Homo sapiens: one gene and its partners. The protein of the gene in region 2 interacts with the protein of the main gene of each other region in a biochemical or structural test. Each region holds a gene or a part of one and is shown on either strand. Other genes may lie near its edges.

Evidence for each region. The genes of interacting proteins can lie anywhere in the genome.
Region 1: of the proteins of EED (region 2) and PJA1, one has a biochemical effect on the other in vitro, tested with the Homo sapiens proteins (one study listed by BioGRID).
Region 3: the proteins of EED (region 2) and PPP1R8 form a complex in vitro, tested with the Homo sapiens proteins (2 studies listed by BioGRID).

What each region holds. Positions count from the first base shown.
Region 1 is NC_000023.11:69,162,454-69,170,127, forward strand, and holds the start of PJA1 (E3 ubiquitin-protein ligase Praja-1), read right to left. Parts: upstream 3,001-7,674; 5' UTR 2,919-3,000; intron 1,014-2,918; exon of another isoform or gene 786-1,013; coding exon of another isoform or gene 621-785; coding exon 1-620. UniProt on the Homo sapiens protein: Has E2-dependent E3 ubiquitin-protein ligase activity. Ubiquitinates MAGED1 antigen leading to its subsequent degradation by proteasome. May be involved in protein sorting.
Region 2 is NC_000011.10:86,247,753-86,254,777, reverse strand, and holds part of EED (polycomb protein EED), read right to left. Parts: intron 5,330-7,025; exon of another isoform or gene 5,218-5,329; intron 4,483-5,217; coding exon 4,330-4,482; intron 2,631-4,329; coding exon 2,538-2,630; intron 1-2,537. UniProt on the Homo sapiens protein: Polycomb group (PcG) protein. Component of the PRC2/EED-EZH2 complex, which methylates 'Lys-9' and 'Lys-27' of histone H3, leading to transcriptional repression of the affected target gene.
Region 3 is NC_000001.11:27,840,757-27,847,781, reverse strand, and holds part of PPP1R8 (nuclear inhibitor of protein phosphatase 1), read right to left. Parts: intron 6,769-7,025; coding exon 6,548-6,768; intron 4,597-6,547; coding exon 4,452-4,596; intron 755-4,451; coding exon 690-754; intron 1-689. UniProt on the Homo sapiens protein: Inhibitor subunit of the major nuclear protein phosphatase-1 (PP-1). It has RNA-binding activity but does not cleave RNA and may target PP-1 to RNA-associated substrates. May also be involved in pre-mRNA splicing.

The DNA.
Region 1 (7,674 bases), on a different chromosome or scaffold from region 2:
TTTCTGATTTTGGGCCTGACCACAGGTTCCTCTGCACTCTTTGAGGTGTTTTCCCCACCACCACAAATACTCACAGGAGCCCTGCTGGGACGTGCAGGTAAATTTTGCTCCCTTCTCTCCCTCTCCGAGCTGTCACCTTTTGTAGCCAGCTTGCCTTCAGAAGACGACTGTGAGGCCACACTACTTTGTGGCAGGAAGTCAGCTCTGCTAGCTGAGCATCTTGCTGCAGGGACTGGGTCTAACTTGTCTCGCTCCTCTCTCACATCACGGCTAAAACTAGAGAAATGTGGAGGTGGCCCAGCCAAAGACCTTGCCCCTTTCTCTGGGTCATACAGCTTATCATCTTTAAACTTGCCAGTTTTCCCTCTCACTGGCGGTCGCTCAACAGGCCCAGCCCCCTCCTCCTCACTATCATCTGCCCCATAAGAGTCAATATGTCCATAGGCCATTCCTCTTCTGCTACCCGAAGCTCTGTACTCTCTTGGCGGATACCTGGAATAGTCCTCATTATCAATATTCAGGTTGGTTCCCGAACTCTCGCTGTCGTCCCAACTACGACGAGTAGTGGAAAATGGCGATCGGCTCCTCTTGGTGGTTTGACTGGGGGCTGATCTGTGCATTGGGACTTCGGAGTTCGTCTTTCTCTGGCTGGCAATCCTTTCCCGCTGGCTCGTGGGTGGCCTGAAACTGACATAAGCATGCCTTCTTCCATACCTCCTACCTGTATTGGACTGATACCCTCCTGTTGGATTGGGCCATACAGGCTTGCTAGATTCCTGACCCATCACTCTGACTTAGGAGGGTTTCCAATACAGCTGGGGCTCGGGTAGGAGGGCTCCTGCTCCCTGCACACGTTTTTGAGATGGGAAAGTAAAATCAGTTTAGAATAAAGGAGCAGGGAGATTTATTTTCACTTCAGCAGGCAGGTAACAGAAAGAATAAGGGGCCTTTAAAATTAGTTTCACTTTCTTCTAAGGCCTGGAGTAGCATTCCAGTGACTGTCAGGTGTAGACCTGGAACACATTTTTAATGTTGGCAAAATGATTACAAGACTGGGTTTGCAGGAAAGCCAGACTTAGAGGAGAATCTGACGGAAGGTTGGGGGGTGACTGGACGCTTGGAAGGTGGGTGAAGTACTGTGGAATTGTGCAACGTGGGGAAAGGAAAGACTGCTATAGTTTTTTTTATGGGGTGTCTGCATTTTTCTGAGTGCTGCAGACATACAGGAGAAATGCAAATTGGAATAGAGTGGAAAATACAGATCGCCGTGTGTGCACGAGTGCCTATGTGTCTGTCTATCAAGAGGAGAGGGACAGGTGGAAGGGGACCAGTAATCCTGCAACAGAGGGATGTTTACGTTTGTAGGGGGAAAGGGTATGAGTGTTAGAATGAGACCCATTCTGGATGTGGGTATGAAAATGACAGGCATGGGTGGGGTGGCTTTGGAGGAGAGGGGTGCGTGTATGTATGAGGAAAGGGAAGGTGTTTGTGTGTGTAGCTGTATGTGAGGCAGCTGAAACTACAGAAGGATGCCCATGTTTATGCGTATGTCACAGGCAGAGGAGTGTATGGTTGGCAATGGAGAGGAGTGTCTGAGAGTTTGTGTGTGTGTATGTTAGTCAAAATGGGAGGCAACAATGGAGAAATGTCAGTGTGAGCAAATGCAGCAGGCACAAATGGAAGCGGGGGTGGGGGGTGCGCAGCACTGGAGAGGGATGTGCTTGAGGTGGATGGAACAGAGGCAGGCAATCAAAGAATGATGCCTGCCTGTGTGGATATGGCAAGCAGGGAGGCAGGTTGTGTCCCCGTAGAAGGATTTATGTGAGTGCGAGTGTGTGCACCTCAGGGACCAGCAAAAGAGAGCTGTGTCTGACACACGTGGCAGACAGAGCAATAGAGGAGAGCATTTGAGAAGGGGGTATGAATGAGCACATGTGGCTACATATGTATGTCACTGGCCAGCGATAGAAGGATGTCCTTATGTGTGTATATGACAGGAAGGAAGAAGGAGGGCAGCCGGAGGGGGTGTGTGAATAGGCATGTGTTCGCGAGAGCACGCAGAGGCCGAGCAGGGAGGGGGCCGGTGCTAGAGGTGTGTATGTGGTAGGCGGATAGAGGAGGGGGAAGGCATGGGAGGGTGTGAGGGTGTGAGGGTGTGTGAGAGGGTGTGTGCTGCGTGTGCCTGCGCATGCGCGGGGGAGGGGAAGCACTGGAACCTTGAGGATGGAGGGGCAAGGAGGGGGCTGCAATGGAAGGCTTCTGTGCGGGGGCGCGTGCTCGCGACACACGGGGGGTGGGGGGTAGGGGGGACGCAATGTCATAAAAAGAGGTGGGAAAAGGCCATCAGCTCAAACGGGAGACCCCAACCGATGTGGCAGGGGAGAGGGAAAATGAAAGAAAAGGGCGTGCGTGGGTCTAGTTTTCCCTGAGAATAATTATTTTTTCCTTCCAATTTTTTCCCTGGGAACAGTATTTTTACCTAAAAATCTTAACCATTTACCATTTGGCAAAACAACAGCAAAATATGGGAAGAAAGGCCACGGAGTGCTCCGCAAAGGGGCCGAGGAGGGAAGAAGGAAGGAGAGGGGAGGAGAGGCAGGGAGAAGTGGGAGAGGGCCGCGACCACCACTGCCCTCCCAATAGCGATGAAAGCCACTCGAGTGGGGACCGCGCCACACCAAAGGGGTTCCGGCAGCGGAAGATGTGGCCCCAGAACAGGCCGATGGAGGACATGGGCCTCACTCTGCAGTCAGGTCCCGCGTCCGCCCCACCCCTTCCCGAGGGGCGAACCTGAAAAGCAGTTCCCAGGAACCCCCCAAAATCCTCGCCCCCGTGCCCGGCCACTCGCCCCGCGCCCGGCCACTCGCGCCACCGCCAGCGCCCGGATGAATCGAGGAAACAATCAGCCTTTCACTCACCAAGTCCAGAAAGCCACACGCTTTTCAGAGAAGCAGAGCTCTCGGATCTCCGACCGCCACGACCGCCAGAGCCGCTGCTCCCGGTCCCGAGCTCCTCCCCCGCCAGACAGCAGCGGGGCGGGCGGCGACTGCGGCGGCGGAAGTGATTGTGAAGTCAGCTGGAGCCCGCCTCCTTGATGTGGCGGGGGCGGCAGCTGCTCTCCACAAATCAGGGTGGGCCCGAAAGCATTATTTCATCTTAAATGATGAAATCGTCAAGGATACAGAAAAGGACAGCGAAAAATGTCACAAACACCCAGCTTTAACTAATGTTAAACATTTAGCTATATTGCCTTCTGGTTTTTTAATAAATAAAATAAAATCTGCAAATTCTTTCTGATTAAGTCCAATGTGAGAGTAATTACGTTACTACATCACATCCTATGTTACGTGTTATGGTTGTACCGAAAGTATTAAAACTGTGAAACCATATTTAGGGTTGCAGTAAGCTTAAATTTTTTTTAACCTGATGGTTAAAGCAAATTGAAGCTGTTTATGTTGAATTTGTTGCTGCTAATCACAAAACCAAGCTTCTCTGTCCAAGAGATCATAGGACACAACACAGGTTCATATTCTGTTATTGCATTGCAGTTAAAAATATTGTAGTTACGCCTTTTGGATTTATACCATTTTACTGAATTCTGAAGTCTTTAAATTGCGCTTTATAATGGAACTCTAGTATTTACAGCCAATGTAAACATTTCCCATGTTCACAACAGTAGCAAAGTTTTGTTCTTACTGGAAACAAAATGCATAATAGAACAAAAATCTTAGGGGTAACAACATAATAGAAATAAAATGTATAACTTTCAAACCATTAAAGTAATAATATGTGGAACAAAGAGAAAAACTCATTCTTAACAAAGGTCAAGAAATGTTGCTGGGGGGGTACAAAAAAAAGGATGCAAAAAGAAAACAAAAATGCAGGAATCCAAATATATCAGCATGCATTATGGGTTAACATCTCCTAATAAAAACCAAACTCTTATTTTGAGCATTTTGTTTTTAAAAGCTAAGTTATATTCTATTTATGTGAGTTTCACCTAAAGCAGAAATAGGAATAAAAAATATATGAGAGTAAAATACTAGCAGAAAAAAGGGAGAGAGGGAATGAGGGAAGGAAAGAAGCAAAAAAAAAAAAAAGGAAGGAAAGGAAGGAGGAAACAAACTCGTAACAATATCAATATCCTAAACATCGAGAACTCAAAGTAAAAAGAACTAAAGAGAACAAAACAGGTTGCTTTATTCACTGAGAAAGATATGACAAGCTGGTGGTGTGTGCCTGTAGTCCCAACTACTTAGGAGGCTGAAGCAGGAGGATTGTGTGAGCCCAGGAGGTTGAGGCTGAAGTGAGTGAAGATCACGCCACTGCACTCCAGCCTGGACAACCAAGCAAGATGCCATCTCAAAATGATGATGATAATAATAACAATAATAGAACTTCATTGGTGAGAAATCTGAAACTATCAAATTTTTTAATGGAGATACATTTTCATCTAGCAATTCTACTTCTAGTCAATTGCTCTATTGTGTGTTCTATTGAGACACACAAATGGAGAAAGATATGTGAATAGGAGTGTAGCAAGATAATGCAAACAACTTTAATTCTCCTCAACAAATAAATTGTTTAAATTTATTTAAACATGTTGCATGGTGGCTCATGTACAGACATGGTGGTTGACACCTGTAATCGCAGCACTTTGGGAGACCAAGGCAGGAGGATTGCTTGAGCCCAGGAGTTGAGACCAGCCTGGACAATATGGTGAAACCCCATCTCTACAAAAAAAACGTAAAAATTTCCCTGGCGCAATGGTACGTGCCTGTAGTCCCAGCTACTTGGGAGGCTGAGGTGGGAGAATCACTTGAGCCCAGGAGGTTGAGGCTGCAGTGAGCCAAGATTGCGCCACTGTGATCCAGCCTGGGCAATAGTCAGACCCTGTCTCAAAAAAAAAAAAAAAAAAAAGAAAGAAAGAAAGAAGGCAAGTATATATGTATATATGTACTGGTCTAATATAAATATATTAAGTGAAAAAAGCATGTTGCAGAACAGTGCATTTTAAAAAAAAACATATGATAGTCACAAAAATTTATGTGCCAAACAATGTAGTTTCAAAATATATAAAGCAAATACTGTTAGAAATATAAAGAGAGATCAGGAAGTCTGCAATTATAGTGGGAAACTTCACCTCATTTCTTATGGTATAGATAAATCAAATAGACTGCAAAATAAATAACGATATGAGGAAATGGGACAGTACAATATACCGAATGTATATGTATTTTTGTTTTTTTGAGACAGAGTCTTGCTCTGTCATCCAGGCTGGAGTACAGTGGTAAAATCTTGGCTCACTGCAACCTCCACCTCCCGAGTTCAAGCAATCTCCTGCCTCAGCCTCCTGAGTTGCTGGGACTGCAGGTGTGCACCACCACACCCAGCTAGTTTTTGTATTTTTTAGTGGAAATGGGGTTTCACCATGTTGACCAGGCTGGTCTCGAATTCCTGATCTCAAGCAATCCACCTGCATCGGTATCCCAAAGTGCTGGAGTTACAAGCGTGAGCCACTGTGCCCAGCTTGTATATGTATTTTTGGACTCAAGAGAGGATACATTTTCTTTATAAAAATATTTTTAAATATGTCAACTATACAGAAAAGTAGAGTATAAAATACACATTTTAATGCACCTGTCACATGGATTGAGCAAATTTTATTTTCTCCAGATCCTCAGATCCTTCTGTTTTTGAAACAAAATAGTACAGATGAAGCCCTCACTTCATCCTATTCACTTGACCTCTCTCTTGAAAATAAGCCTTATTTGGAAGTTGATGTGCTGTCGTCTTGTTCATGTTTGTGTGTGTGTGTATGTGTATATATATATATATATATATATATATGTGTGTGTATATATATGTATGTATATATGTGTATATATGTATATGTGCATATAAGTGTATGTATACATATATATACAGATATATAATATATATTTACATATATATATCTGTGACCAATACACAATTTTGTTTCATGTATTTAAATTATACAGATGGTATCATTATAAATATATACTTTTGCAACTTAGATTTTCACTCTGTTGTTTTTTGAAACTCAGCAATTTTGATACCTGTAGATCTGAGTCATGCATTTTAACTGCTGAATATTACTGTATCAATTATCCAATACATTACTATAACATATTATTGTATGGACTTCTTTTGCATAAGTTATCCAATTTATCTCTTTTCCTACTGTTTCTGTTTTGTGCAATTATAAGTGAGGATTCAATGAACATCCTAGTGCATGGCTCCTTGTGCCTACATAGAAGAGTTTCTTCAGGGCAGAGCTTCCCAACTGAGTTATAAGTGTTCTGATATATTGATCCCCTTAGCTCTCCAGGAAGGTAGCTTTGGCTTCAGCAGCTGCCCCTAGAGACTGTTGCCTCTGGCCAAGAGCACACTGTCTGTTTATTCCAGTGAGCTGATAGCATTTTAAATATATGTTCTGATGTGAAAAGGATTGAAATAAATTGCTCTAGTATGGAAACATTGAAGTAGAATTTCTTGGTCAAAGAGTATGTAGTAGGTATCTATTGCTGTGTAACAAATTTCCCTAAAACATAGCAGCTAAAAACAACAAACATTTATCATATCAGTTTCTATGGGTCTGGAATCCAGGCATGGCTTAGTTAGGTGCCTCTGACTCAAACTTTCTTACGAGGTTGCACCCAAGCTCTCATCTAGGGTTGCAGTCTCATTTGAAGGCTCAAGTAGGGTAAGAGGTCCACTTCCAAGCTCTTTTACATGGTTGTTGACAGGCCAAAGAAGACCCATTTCTAAGCTAACTCATGTGGCTGTTGTCAGACTTTGATTCCTTGTCGTGTGGACCTATCCGTAGGCTTCCTAAGTCTCCTCACAGCATGGTAGCTGGAGAGAGAGAAAGAGAGAGAGAGAGAGAGAGAGAGATCCCAAGAGGAAAGATGCAGTCTTTTTATAACTTAATCTCAGAAGTGAGATCTCATCACTTTTGCCATATCCTATTCATTAAAAACAAGCCATGGAATTTGTTCATTTTATCTAAGTAATCAAATTTGTGGCCATAGAGTTGTTCATAATACTTTTTATTATCCTTTTAATGTCCATGAGGTCAGTAGCAATGGCTCCTCTCTAATTTCTGATATGAGTAATTTTGTTTACTCTCTTTTTTTCTGGGTCAGTCTGGCTACAAGCTTCTCAATCTTGTTGACCTTTTCAAAGAACCAGCTTTTGATTGTATTGCTTTTTCTCTACTATTGTTCTGTTTTCAATTTCATTGATTCCTGTTTTAATTTTTATTGCATTTTTTTCTGCTTACTTTGGGCTGAATTTGCTGTTTTATTTTCTAGTTTCCTAAGATGGAAGCTTAGATGATTTATTTAAGGTATTTCTTATTTTCTAATGTATGCATTCAATGCTACAAATTTCCCTCTAAGCACCACTTTTGCTGCATCCCACAAATTTTGGTAATTTATCTCAAAATATTTTAAAATTTATCTTGACACTTCTTCTCTAACCCATGTTTTCTTTAGAAGTATATTGTTTAATCCCCAAATATTATGTGATTTTCCAGCTACCATTCTTCTATTGATTCCTAATTCAATTTCATTGTGGTCTGAAAGCATACTTTGTATAATGTCTATTCTTTTAAATTTGTTGAGGCATGTTTCATGGCCCAGGATGTAG
Region 2 (7,025 bases):
GGTGGCACATGCCCGTAATCCCAGCTACTCAGGAGGCTGAGGCTGGTGAATCACTTGAACCCGGGAGGCGGAGGTTGCAGTGAGCCGAGATTGCACCATTGCACTCCAGCCTGGCAACAAAAGCGAAACTCTGTCTCAAAAAAAAATAAAATAAAATAAGTCCGGACACAGTGGCTCATGTCTTTAATCCCAGCACTTTGGGAGGCCGAGGCGGGTGGATCACGAGGTCAGGAGATCAAGACCATCCTGGCTAACACGGTGGAACCCCGTCTCTACTAAAAATACAAAAATTAGGTGGGTGTGGTGGCATGTGCCTGTAGTCCCAGCTACTCAGGAGGCTGAGACAGGAGAATCGCTAGAACCCAGGAGGCAGAAGTTGCAGTGAGCCAAGATTGCACCACTGCACTCCAGCCTGGGCAACAGAGAGAGACTCAGTCTCAAAAAAAAAAAAAAACCATAAAAAATAAAAATTCAAATAAAAATAAGTCTTTGGATAGTTTTGGAGTATTTACATATTAGTTACATATTTAAAAGTCTACAATTTGCTTAATGAATTATTTTCTCATGGGTACAGATAATCAAACATTAACTTTCACATGTATGATAGCCTTTTTCATTTGTTGCATACTCTAAAATTAAAACTATACATACACCATACACAATTTTGTAATACTAAACTTTTATAAATTTCTTTCCATTTTCTTTTTTTTTTTTTTTTTTTTTTTTTTTGAGACAGAGTTTCACTCTTGTCGTCCAGACTGGAGTGCAATGGCATGATCTTGGCTCACTGCAACCTCTGCCTCCCGGATTCCAGTGATCCTCCTGCCTCAGCCTCCCGTGTAGCTGAGATTACAGGCACTCGCTATCATGCCCAGCTAATTTTTGTGTTTTTAGTAGAGACAGGGTTTCACCACGTTGGTCAGGCTGGTCTCGAACTCCTGAGTTCAGGTGATCCACCTGCCTCAGCCTCCCAAAATGCTGGGATTACAGGCGTGAGCCACTGTGCCCGGCCCCATTTTTCTTATAGCTTATAGTCAGTCACATTAGCAAAAACCTATTATTATTTTATAATAGTACTGAAGACCTCTGAAGATCCTGTGTATCATCACAACCTATTAATTCATTATCTCCTCTATGTTAATGTTCAAAAAAAATTCTTTATATGGCTGCTAACTAGGTTATGTCTTATGTGGTAATTGTTTTTGTTTTCTTTCTTCCTTTTAAAGAAATTCTAACAGCAGAACTTTTTATAATTCAATAAACTATATGACACCCCTTTATGTCACTTTAAATAAAAATAGGGATTCTTTTTGTTAGAAAACCTAAAACACTGCAATCAGCACACTGGAGCACAAACTATACCAATTATAATACTATCAAAGCTAAATATTAACTTAGGTTTACAGTGGTGTCTTAAAAGTGGACTCAAATTTAATTAATGCACTACATTCCCAACTAGGAAAAAAATAACCTCAACCTTTTCTTAAAACCGCAAAATTTTTCCTCTGAATTGTTGTTTTCAAAGAATCTAGGAACTAAACAACTATAAGCAGACTACATTATCTTAAAACCTACATTTGACTAAACACCAAAAACAGAAGAAAAAAAGCTATTATTTCATGTTATCAACTTCAGTGGTAACTTAAAAATATTTAGAGTTTCAATGAATTGACCTTGTCAAATAGTAAAAGGCCTAGAGCCTTACATGTCATTATAAAATTTCCTTAAAAGGCTGGACATGGTGGCTCATGACTGCAACCCCAGCTCTTTGGGAGGCCAAGGCAGGTAGATTGCTTGAGCCCAAGAGTTCAAGACCAGCATGGGCAACACGGTGAAAACCTATCCCTACAAAAAAAATTAGCCAGGGATGGTAGTGCATGCCTGTAGCTACTCAGAAGGCTGACATGGGAGGATCACCTGAGCCCCAGAAGTTGAGGCTGCAGTAAGCCTTGATTAACCACTGCACTCCATCCTGGAGGAAGGAGTAAGACTCTCTCTCTCTCAAAAACAAACAACAACAACAACAACAACAATCACCACCAAACACTACCTGTCTCAAAACAAAAAAACCCAGCAAACTCAAATGTTTACTGCAAGTAATTAAAACATCTCAATAACTTATTTAAATCCACTGGATTTATGCTTCATTTATAGAGCCATTCATTACCTTAATTTTAAAAAAATCACAGCCAGTTCTTACGCTATTTGAATGATAAATACCAAAATCACTTTAAAAAGAACGCCAATTAAAAAAAAAAAAAAAGGACGCCAATTCTTTCAACCAAGTATTTATGAAGACAAATACAAGTATAAAACCTGTTTCATAAATAATTAGGGGTAATATATTAAATATAGATGTATTTTCAGCCATGCATACTAGTTTTAATTAATTTCTAGAAACCTTCACTCTTACATGAAAGAATCATATTGCTAAACCAGCTTCACAAAATGCACTTTGAAATTATTCTATTTCAATATTACATTAACACCAGATCTGGAAATCAAGCCAAATACTAAATAGACCCCTTAACACTCACTCTGTTGCTTCCTACAGTTGCAAACACTAATGGATCTCCTTCTTTACTGTGCCAGTTAAACTGAACTCCAAACAATGGTTGGTTATGATCTTCCTATAAAATAATCATGAAATAAGAAAAGATTAATGTATCTTACAAACCAGAAAATGACAGTAAACTAACCTATCCCCTTCTTTTTTCCAAAATGCAATACATTATTTTGTGTATCATACATAAGCTAACTTTTGACACTAAAATTAAAAGATGTCTACTAGTCTAGTTTTCACATTTTAAAATATTGTGTATGATAAAGTTTTATCACAACCAAAGGCTGAAATCACAAGTTAGGTAATAACCGCTTACCTACGAAAACACTTATAATATTTGCCTTTTTCTTAATAAGCCAATCATATTCTGAATCACAATAAACTGGATAATTTTGGTGGATACAAAAGGACACAATTTATTTTTCTGAAACAGGAAATTAACAGATGGCCTTAATAGCTTCTCTGGCATTCACTAAATTTTATAAGGCTAAATTTTTCCCTTGTAAAGTGAAGCATAGCAGACTCCATTCAAATCACTGTTTTCTGTTAGTCAGAATGAGAATATCTGAACACTGGGGACTAGGGGAAGAAATAAACTGTAACTGCACAGTTACCAGGAGGCTATAGGAGATGTACAAAGAACAATTATGCACTTTTGTTCACAAAGTTATTTTTCAGCTTTAGGATTTTACTGGCCAACTTCTGGCATTTAACACTGACTTTCAGATGCAGTTTAAGGCACTGTTTTCACTTTTAAAGTACGTCTTTCGTTTTCTCATCATTTGAAAAGCCACAGCTTTAGGATTTTGAAATACTGCCTTAAGTATAAAAGGCAGCTAAAAACATCTTCCAGGTACAGTACCTAAAAGTAGTACGTTAATGTAAATAAATATGCACATGAAACTATAATTGACTTTTAAAAAATATGCTGAGATTAATTTCTCTCCTTTTACAGGAGCAAAATCTGACACACTGAGCATCGAATTTTTGCTACACAGACAGAAAAATGTCATAGTCATAGCTTCTTATGCTTTCCCAAAACTTTACTTATAAAAAATATATTTGGATATTTAGAAAAGGTTTTAACTTACATATGTATGAGATAATACACATTTTTCCTCAGTATAGAAAAAAATAGCCTCACATTTAAAAAACAAACTGGACATATATAAAAGAAAATATCTTAAACACCAGTAACCCCTTTTATAAAGTAAATAAAAATACTATTGGGGACAGATTAATTTAAATAACCAAAACCCCCTTTTCCCTAAATATTTAATATTAAAAAGTTTAAAAATTTTTTACACCTTTTTCTTTGAAAACAGTTATAAATAAAACAAAGGACAGAAACTGTACAAAGTAAAACATCTGTTTCAATTTATACTTAGTCAAAGTTAATGGGTTACATTCAGTTCTTTTTAAAAACTGATGCCAGAAGTGGCTTATGTTTTTTAAGTTTTACTAAAATATAAAGAGTAATAGTTACCCAAATCTTATAATTTGAATGCAAACAATAAAGCAAAAACATCCTGCAACACTGTCACATATTTAAATTAAAACAACAAAAAACAAAACCAAAAAACTAAACATGGGATGGACTAAAATAGATACGCAGTCTGAACTACAAAAAAAAAAACCCTTCAGAAAACATTGTAACTTTAAAATATTTACAACTTGACAGAGTATCCTGAGTACGAAATGCGTGCCACAGAGAAATAATTTCTGAAGCCTAGCATTCAGCCCAAAGGATCTTTTTTTGCACATACCTTGAGACTATTTACACATTTGAAAGAATATTTGCATTTCTTTGACTTCCATTTTCCCTTTCCCCAACTTTTCCTTCCAGGTGCATTTGGCGTGTTTGTAGGTGTATCAGGGCGTTCAGTGTTTGTACCACTTTCTATACTGACAGCGTCATCCTGTAAGCAGTAAATGAGGAAAAATTACATGAAACAGCAATACTGTTTTTAGCAGTAAATAACTCTACTGGGAAGATGCTGACTGACCTAAGAGAAATAATTTCTACAAGAAGAAAAAAATGTATTCTTGCCTCCACATAAGGATAAACATAATCCAGCTACAGGTTAGAAGGTTTGTAGATATTTTATATTTCAACAAAAATGAAAATGAAATAAATACTAATGAGAATAATGGAAGAGTAATACTGTCTTTAATAAGGCACTGGTCTGTTCCAGTCACTTTAATACACTGTATCAGTGAATCTTTACAGCTCTTTACAAAAGGTACTGGAAGTGCTGAAAAAGCCTAACTGGTCTCTTGGCTGGTAATTCCATCCCAAAGCTGTGACTCTTAAATCTGACTGATGTATATGTCTTCATAATGTATTTGACTGCTGCTCAGTCTGGAGCATGGAGCTGGGGAGCCGTTTGAAGCAGGAGTGTTAATGGCTTCTACATTAGATGTCACTTTTTAAAATCCTGTTATTCAAATTCTGCTTATAACGCAAAACATTTAGAATTTTTTTAAAGTGCTACATATATTCTATGCTATTTACAAGTTAAAACTGTCTCATTGTTCTAAAGTAATAATACTCATAAATCAGAACTCCAGAGACTCTCAATCACAATTAAAGTAAATCCTTCCAAAAAAAAGAAATGACTGCAGGAAACCTTGAAAATTCTCCTAATTCATACCTTATCTCACACACGAGTGGCCCTCTAATCTCAGCTCTCTAATCTCAGAAGAGGATTCCACTACCTCCTGATTACAGATTCCAATGTCTCCTTTGGAAAGAAAAGATTTATTTAATCTAGGATCTTAGGGCAGCAGTTCTAAAATACATTCCAGAGGAAGCCTTTTTTTTTTTTTTTTTCCATGAAATGCCTATTAAACAGCCTAGGAAACACTGCTTTAGGGGCTATTTTTAAATTATTGCTTCCTAAAGTTGGTTTTATATAGAAGGTTAAAAAATATCATAAATGAAATAATAGGCGGGTAGCAAGCAGTACGTACTCAACAAATATTTGAATTGTAATTTAATGTGAATATCATTAGTCTTTACAGAAATAGAAAATGTGGTATTTTAATCTCTTTTTCTCTCCACCTTTTCAGTTGTATTCACATAATTAACATCAAACGTAGAAAACAATTCTGTATCTCAGTGGAAAACTATGCATTATCTATATAGCACATCCTTCCAAGTTACCAGACTATAGCCCTCCACTATGTCTTTGAGCTATCTTACAACTCTTTTTTGAGACAGGCTCTCCCTCTGTCACCCACTCTGTCCTTGGTTCAACGCAACCTCCACCTCCCAGACTCAAGTGATCTTCCCCCCACCTTAGCCTCCTGAGTAGCTGGGACAACAGGAGCTGGCCACCACACCCAGCTAATTTTTGGTAGAGACAGAGTTTCACGATGTCGCCCAGGCTGGTCTCAAACTCCTGGACTCAAAGGATCCTCCCACCTCAGCCACCTAAAGTGCTGGGATTACAGGTGTGAGCCACTGCGCCCAGCCACAACTCTTTTTTCATTATGAATAACTGATAGACATGTAAATTTTGTCTCTACAGTAGAGGTTCAAAATGTCTTCCCTTCCACTCAAGGGAAAAAAAAGTTTCTGTCTCCATTTGGAATTCATCTCTCCATTCCTTTACTCCATATATTAATAAATTTGTACTGTTTTGATTTTGCGGGTTAACCATTACTGTATAACATTTGCCTGGTTCCCTCTGAGTAAAAGTTTCAACATGTGTTCACTTGCCATTTTTTCTGTAAAATTACCTTTTAACACTAGAGAACTGAAATTTTAAAAACTCTAAGACGTTTTTATATATCAGTTTCTTTACATTCTGGCTAAACACTGAGCTGCCAATACAGAGGCCACACAAAACATTCGTTAATAGGGCACGTTGCTTATTTTACTTCTGATCACTTAATTTACCCATCTCCTCCCAAGGCAAATCAAGATGGAATCAAATGAAAATGTAATACAGCCACCATGCTTCCATTTTATCTTTAAACTAAAATCAAGTCTTTGCTGAGTGTCTAATATATGTACAGGGTGACCTCCATCCTATTCCATTCTCAAAGTAAAGAATGATACTGTGCAACAGACATGGTACTACCATCTTCACTTGCCCAACGAGGAAAGAGACACAGGGCAGTAATTTGCACCTGCATCTTGCCACAGGGATTCCCTGCATCTTTGCTTTTGCTTAAGCAAAAAGACAAGTCTCCAGATTCAGCCCTCTGATCTTACTACCAAGGCATCCATTAGTACTCTCGCAGAAGCCAACTACTCTGCAGTCATATGATCTCAAAAAGTTCAATAAAATGGCAGGTAACACAATAAATGTAAAATATGTGCCTGTAATTCTCTGACTCACATTAACAGTAGTAACTGCTCAGGTTACCTGAACTCTAACACAAAAACATATTCCCCCACACCCCATCTGCTTTGGCCTTTTGCCATTATTTGGCTCCCTCAAGAGTAAAACTA
Region 3 (7,025 bases), on a different chromosome or scaffold from region 2:
TAAAATTAAGCACTCACTCAACAGCACATAAAGAGCAGGTTATTTTTTTTTTGAGATGGAGTCTCGCTCTGTCACCAGGCTGGAGTGCAGTGGCACCATCTCAGCTCACTGCAACTTCCACCTCCCCGGTTCCAGCGATTCTCCCACCTCAACCTCCCAGTTAGCTGAGACTACAGGAATGCGCCACCACACCCAGCTAATTTTTGTATTTTTAGTAGAGACAGGGTTTCAACATGTTGGCCAGGATGGTCTCAATCTCTTTTTTTTTTTTTTTTGAGACAGAGTCTTGCTCTGTTGCCCAGGCTGGAGTGCAATGGTGCGACCTCAGCTCACTGCAACCTCCGCCTCCCAGGTTCAAGCGATTCTCCTGCCTCAGCCTCCTGAGTAGCTGGGATTACAGAGACCTACCACCACGCCTGGCTAATTTTTGTATTTTTAGTAGAGACAGGGTTTCACCATGTTGGCCAGGTTGGTCTCGAACTCCTGACCTCAGGTGATCTGCCTGCCTTGGCCTCCCAAAGTGCTGGGATTACAAGTGTGAGCCACTGTGCCTGGCCTCGATTTCTTGACCTCTTGATCTGCCTGCCTCAGCCTCCCAAAGTGCTTGGATTACAGGCATAAGCCAACGCGCCTGGCCTAAAGAGCAGGTTTTAAAACACAGACTGTATGGCATTTCATGTGCTTCCTACCTTGACTGGGACCACTGCAGTTTGCACCATGTTCCTGAATCGACCAACTGAGGGATCCACATCCTCTGCAAAAAGAGAAGAGGGCAGGGTTGGGTTGGTACTTTACTGGGAGGAATAAGGGCACAGGAGTCACTGCAAACAAACCATCACAACAACTCATATTAAAATTGTAAAACACAGAGAGTGCTTCCTGGGTGCTGGGCATTGTGCTAAATCCTCACAAAGACCCTGTGATGTAGGTACTACCACAATCAACATTTAGTAGATGAGAAAGCAAACTGAGGCTTGGAGGAGCAAAGGGACTGGCCCAGTTGCTCTGGTGGAGAGTACAGGAGCCAGGACTTGAGTCCAAGTAGTTCAAAACAGGCCTGTGATCTGCACCACTGTGCTGTGCTGCCCTCCCCCAAGTTCTTTCCCATTCTGTATAACTCCCTCTTTTGAGGGGAAAGAAAAGAAGAGTAGACATTATCAGTTCCATATCAGTGACAAAACAATGACATGTCAAGAGGTCACATATCAAATGCCTTGCTAATGCCTGCTTATTAGCAAAAAAACGGATTTTGGTTTCAAAGCCAGGGCTTCAAACTGAACCTGGCCTTTTGACTTGAACGGCCTGAACTGTATATAAGCAAGACTTGCACTAAAGGCTCTGATGCCCCCGTCTACACGGGAAATGAAGAGCAAGATACTGTCCCACCCTTGAATTCACAGTCACAGAGCCAGATAGGCTACAACACAGAGGTGCTTCAAGAGAAGTGCACAACAGTGTTTCTGGAGCACAGAGGGGATGACTGGGCTGGATCACCAAGGATGGTGGAGTTTTCTCACTGAAGGTTGAATGTGAGTGGAAACATGCAGAGGCACCAACTTATGTACCACTACTAGAGAAAACTACTCCAAGCCCCAGTTAACTTAATATAGTGATAGAGAAGGAATCATTTCCCTAATAGATGTTGTCATCTTATTTTCAATGAGGTTGCTTGTTATTGAAAGAAACACTCCTGGCCGGGTGCGGTGGCTCACGCCTGTAATCCCAGCACTTTGGGAGGCCGAGGTGGGCAGATCATGAGGTCAGGAGGTCGAAACCATCCTGGCTAACATGGTGAAACTCCGTCTCTACTAAAAAATACAAAAAATTAGCTGGGTGTGGTGGCGTGCACCTGTAGTCCCAGCTACTCGGGACGCTGAGGCAGGAGAATGGCGTGAACCCGGGAGGTGGAGCTTGCAGTGAGCCGAGATCACGCCACTGCACTCCAGCCTGGGCGACAGAAGGAGACTCCGTCTCAAAAAAAAAAAAAAAAAAAAAAAAGAAAGAAAGAAAGAAAGAAAAACTCCCAGAAATCCCTTTGGAAAACAAAGAATCACTATTTAATTTGAGTAATTATAATTAGCCCCTGGTTTATTTGCTTTAAGTCTGGATTTTTTCACATATTAGGATCCATGCCTTTAAAGAGGACACTCTGGTATTATATTCACCATCAATCTATGCTCAATGAACAAATGGCTTCTATATAGACGAGAAAGGACAAAAATATCCAAGCTGATTAAGAAAGAGACAATGTCTCTAAAAAGGTATCCCAAACTTCTCTCATGGCCCCTCCGGTTTCAGAGCCTGTGCTCTTAACCACTATGCTATACTGCCTGAACACATTTCCCTAAGAAAGCTCGAGGGCACTAATTTTCTTTCTTTCTTTTTTTTTTTTGAAACGGAGTCTTGCTCTGTCGCCCAGGCTGGAGTGCAGTGGCACCATCTCGGCTCACTGCAAGCTCCGCCTCCTGGGTTCACGCCATTCTCCTGCCTCAACCTCCCAAGTAGCTGGGACTACAGGCGCCCGCCACCACACCCAGCTAATTTTTTATATTTTTAGTAGAGATGGGGTTTCACCGTGTTAGCCAGCATGGTCTTGATCTCCTGATCTCGTGATCCGCCCACCTCGGCCTCCCAAAGTGCTGGGATTATAGGGGTGAGCCACCGTGCCCGGCCGAGGGCACTAATTTTCAGTGAGAAAAACAGAGCAGATCAGATCCTCACTCCTGAAAGAGACTTAAGAAATTTGTCAGGCCGGGCATGGTGGCTCACGCCTGTAATCCCAGCACTTTAGGAGGCCGAGGCGGGCGGATCACGAGGTCAGGAGATCGAGACCATCCTGCCTAACACGGTGAAACCCCGTCTCTACTAAAAAAAAAAAAAAAAAAAAAAAAAAAAAATTAGTCGGGCATGGTGGCGGGCGCCTGTAGTCCCAGCTACTCGGGAGGCTGAGGCAGGAAAATGGCGTGAACCCAGGAGGCGGAGGTTGCAGTGAACTGAGATCGTGCCACTGCACTCCAGCACTCCAGCCTGGGTGACAGAGCGAGACTCTGTCTCAAAAAAAAAAAAAAAAAAAAAAAAGAAATTTGTCTAGTCCAGTGGTTCCCAAATTGCTGGCTGTTGTACAAACAGGAGCTCATTAAAAAATATAAATTTTGGGCTGGGCGCGGTAGCTCACGCCTGTAATCCTAGCACTTTGGGAGGTTGAGGGCAGATCACCTGAGGTCAGGAGTTCAAAACCAGCCTGGCCAACATGGTGAAACCCCGTCTCTACTAAAAATACAAAAAAATTAGCCAGGTGTGGTGGCAGAAGCCTATAATTCCAGCTACTTGGGAGGCTGAGGCAGGAGAATCACTTGAACCCAGGAGGCAGAGGTTGCATGAGCCGAGATTGCGTCACTGCACTCCAGCCTGGGTGACAGAACGAGACTCCGTCTCAAAAAATAAATAAATAAAAATAAAAAATAAAAAATAAAAATTTCAGCCAGGCATGGGGACTCATGCCTGTAATCCCAGTGCTTTGGGAGACTGAGGCAGGAGGATCGCTTAAGCCCAGGAGGTCAAGACCAGCCTGGGCAACATGATGAAACCCCATTTCTACAAAACATATGACAATTAGCTGAGCGTGGTGACGTGCACCTGTTGTCCCAGATACTCAGGAGGTTGAGGTGGGAGGATCACCTGAGCCTGGGTGGTCAAGGCTGTAGTGAGCCGTGACTGTGCCACTGCACTCTAGCCTGGGCGACAGAATGAGATCGTGTCTCACACACACACAAAAAAGAAAAATTAAAAAACATATAAATTTCTAGGTCCAACCCTGGAAACTCTTTTTTGGAGACAGTCTCACTCTGTCACCCAGGTGGGAGTGCAGTGGCACAACCTCGGCTCACTGCAACCTCTGCCTCCCAGGTTTAAGCGATTCTCCTGCCTCAGCTTCCTGAGTAGCTGGGACTGCAGGTGTGTGCCACCATGCCTGGCTGATTTTTTTATTTTTTGTAGAGACAGGGTTCTGCCATGTTGGCCACCCTGGTCTTGAAATCCTGGCCTCAAGCAATCCACCAACTTCAACCTTCCAAAGTGCTGGGATTATAGGCATGAGCCACTATGCCTGACCAACCACAGCTTTTTCTTTCTTTTTTTTTTGTCACCTAGGCAGGAGTGCAATGGCACAATCCCGGCTCACTGCAGCTTCTGCCTCCTGGGTTCAAGCAATTCTCCTGCCTTAACCTCCCAAGTAGCTGGGACTACAGGCGAACACCACCATGCCCAGCTAATTTTTGTATTTTTTTTAATAGAGATGGGGTTTCACCTTGTTGGCCAGGCTAGTCTTGAACTCTTGACCTTAAGTGATCCACCCTCCTCGGCCTCCCAAAGTGCTAGGACTACAGGCGTGAGCCACCGCGCCCGGGCCAACCACAGCTTTTTCATCAGAATAAACTAGCAAGATACCTCACCTGGGTTGATGATCTCATCATCCTCACTGAATGTCACCCGTGAGTTCTTCCTCTTCCTCTTTGGTCTTTGAATGTCCAGATTTCCCTCCTCAATGGTAAGGGTAGAAATCCGCTTGTTGTGGGCAGTGTTGAACTCTGTCAGGTTCTAAGCCAGGGTTCATACAGGAAAGACAGCAGTCAGTACAAAGGGAATCTGATGGAGAAAATCATACTAAATAAAGGTGAGGAAGGCATGAGGGGCTAATCTTGACCTCCAAAGGGAGTTGAGACACTTCTGCATTTAGAGAAGATTCATACTGTCCCGAGACTACGAATACTAACAAGTCTCAAGTCTCATTAGAAAGAATGTGGAACATCCTCATTGACTAGTGGGGCAGTGATATTCAAGAGGTAAAGGGCCTTGAGCTGAGAACAGGTCATCTGTGCAAATATCCTTGAGTTGTGTTTTTTGTTGTTGCTGAAGAAAGGCTATCATGTCTTCATGCCCACAATAAGCTGAGAATTAAAAGGAAATGTGGCTGGAAGGAACGCCAAGAATTGTTTTTAAGTAACAAAATTGAGATGAAAAAGGACAACTGGCTGCTTCCTTCCTAGTAGCTTTCTCCTTCAAAATTAAGGACACTGCTAGTGCACTTAATTTTTGGCGTTAATATTTTGTCATGCCCCATCCTGTGTCTGGCCCCAATTCTATTCATAACTATCTCAATAATTAACTTGGCCTTAGCTCTGTTGCTTGCCTCTTCCCAATCCACTGAAATTATTCCTTTCTGGTACAAACCACAAGTTTGAGATATTCTAAATGTCTTAAGAATGAAGATCCAGGGAGTACCTAACATACTGAACTAAAAGCCATGGAAGTATAGCAGCAGCCTGGATAAGGTGGCCTAAAGGGGAAATGGGCAACAGCAAGGTCCCTGGCTATGAAGCCACTTCTTCAAAACAAAACGACTTCTTAATTGTAAAATTTCTCTTTTTTTTTTTTTTTTTTGAGACGGAGTTTCGCTCTTGTTGCCCAGGCTGGAGTGCAACTGCGCGATCTTGGCTCACCACAACCTCCACCTCCCAGGTGCAAGTGACTCTCCTGCCTCAGCCTCCTGAGTAGCTGGGATTACAGGCATGCACCACCACACCCAGCTAATTTTTTGTATTTTTAGTAGAGATGGGGTTTCTCCATGTTGGCCAGGCTGGTCTCGAACTCCTGACCTCAGGTGATCCGCCCACCTCGGCCTCCCGAAGTGCTGGGGTTACAAACATGAGCCACTGTGCCCGGCCTAAGTTGTACAATTTCTATCGTGCTTTTCTTCCTAAGAGCCAGGAAACTGCCTTGGTGTACAGGAATAGTAAATGCAGGTGGGTGGTTAAGGACATGATTGCATTTGGTCTATTTGAACAGACCAATCACACCAGTGCAGTGACAGCTATGTAAAGGACTATAGCCACACCAAACTACTGGGGTCAGTTTCAAAAAAGGAAAACTTCTAGCACCTTAAAATTAAATCTTATAAAATTCATGGCCCTCAGGACAGCGAGGCCCATGGAAGAACAAAAGCAGTCTGGCTCTATTCAGAAGATTCCTGGACTGTTCAGATAGCACCAAAAAAAGCTACATGAATGAATGAAAATGTCAGTCTCTCTAAGCCAGTGCTGTCTGACAGAACTTTCTGTGAGGATGAAAACATTCTCTCTTTGCACTAGCCAACATAGCAGCCACTAGCCATATGTGACTACATAATACTTGAAATATTGTTAGTGGCTACCATATTGGACAGCATTAGCTCTAAGCAGTCAAGGGACAGAGAAATGTAGCTTCCAGTCTTAGCTTCTAACAGCCAGTGAAGGTGCACAAAACAGCTCAAGGAGACTAGTGGCTGGGACTCAGCCTCCTTGTTAGGCCTGGTGATACACAACCAAATCCATACAATGTGGCTCTCCGAGAGCTGTCACAGCTGGCCACACCAGATTGCCAAAGGCCCATTACTGGACTCAAGAGAACCCCCTGCTGCTAAGTCACTGGCATTTCCAGCTACATAGAACAGCTGTATACTCCAAAAACCAGGGTCCCCAAAGACAAAACAATGACATAAACAGGGAATTACATCAAGCTCAGTTTCCTCCTCTGGAAGCCCCAGTAAGCCCTTGAGTTCATCATCCTCTCCACCCATCTTCTCATCTCCTTTCACAGCCGATGGCAATGTCTGAGGCTTCTCGCGCAGAGTGTATGCCCTTGTGGATGCGCCAAATGAGACCGTGGAATCGATGGGAATTTGCTGAGGCTTGTGAGGTTCCAACCGAATGTGACCCAAGAAAGTGCCGTGTGCTGGGAATAACCAAATCAGAAACGTAAGGGGGAAAACAAAAACAACCTGAGTTTTAGAAGGAAGAGTATGATCGCCAACTCTCTTATCAGGTCAGCTTCCCCCCAGCACATCAGTTTTGCTTTTTTGTCTGTTTTTAATTTATTTTAAAAATGCCATAGTCAGGATCATGGTCAGAAACTCCAGCTTTTTAAAAAATGAAAATGGCACTGGGTCCACCACATCCATCATGTGTTACAGTGAGAAGGAAACTCCCTCA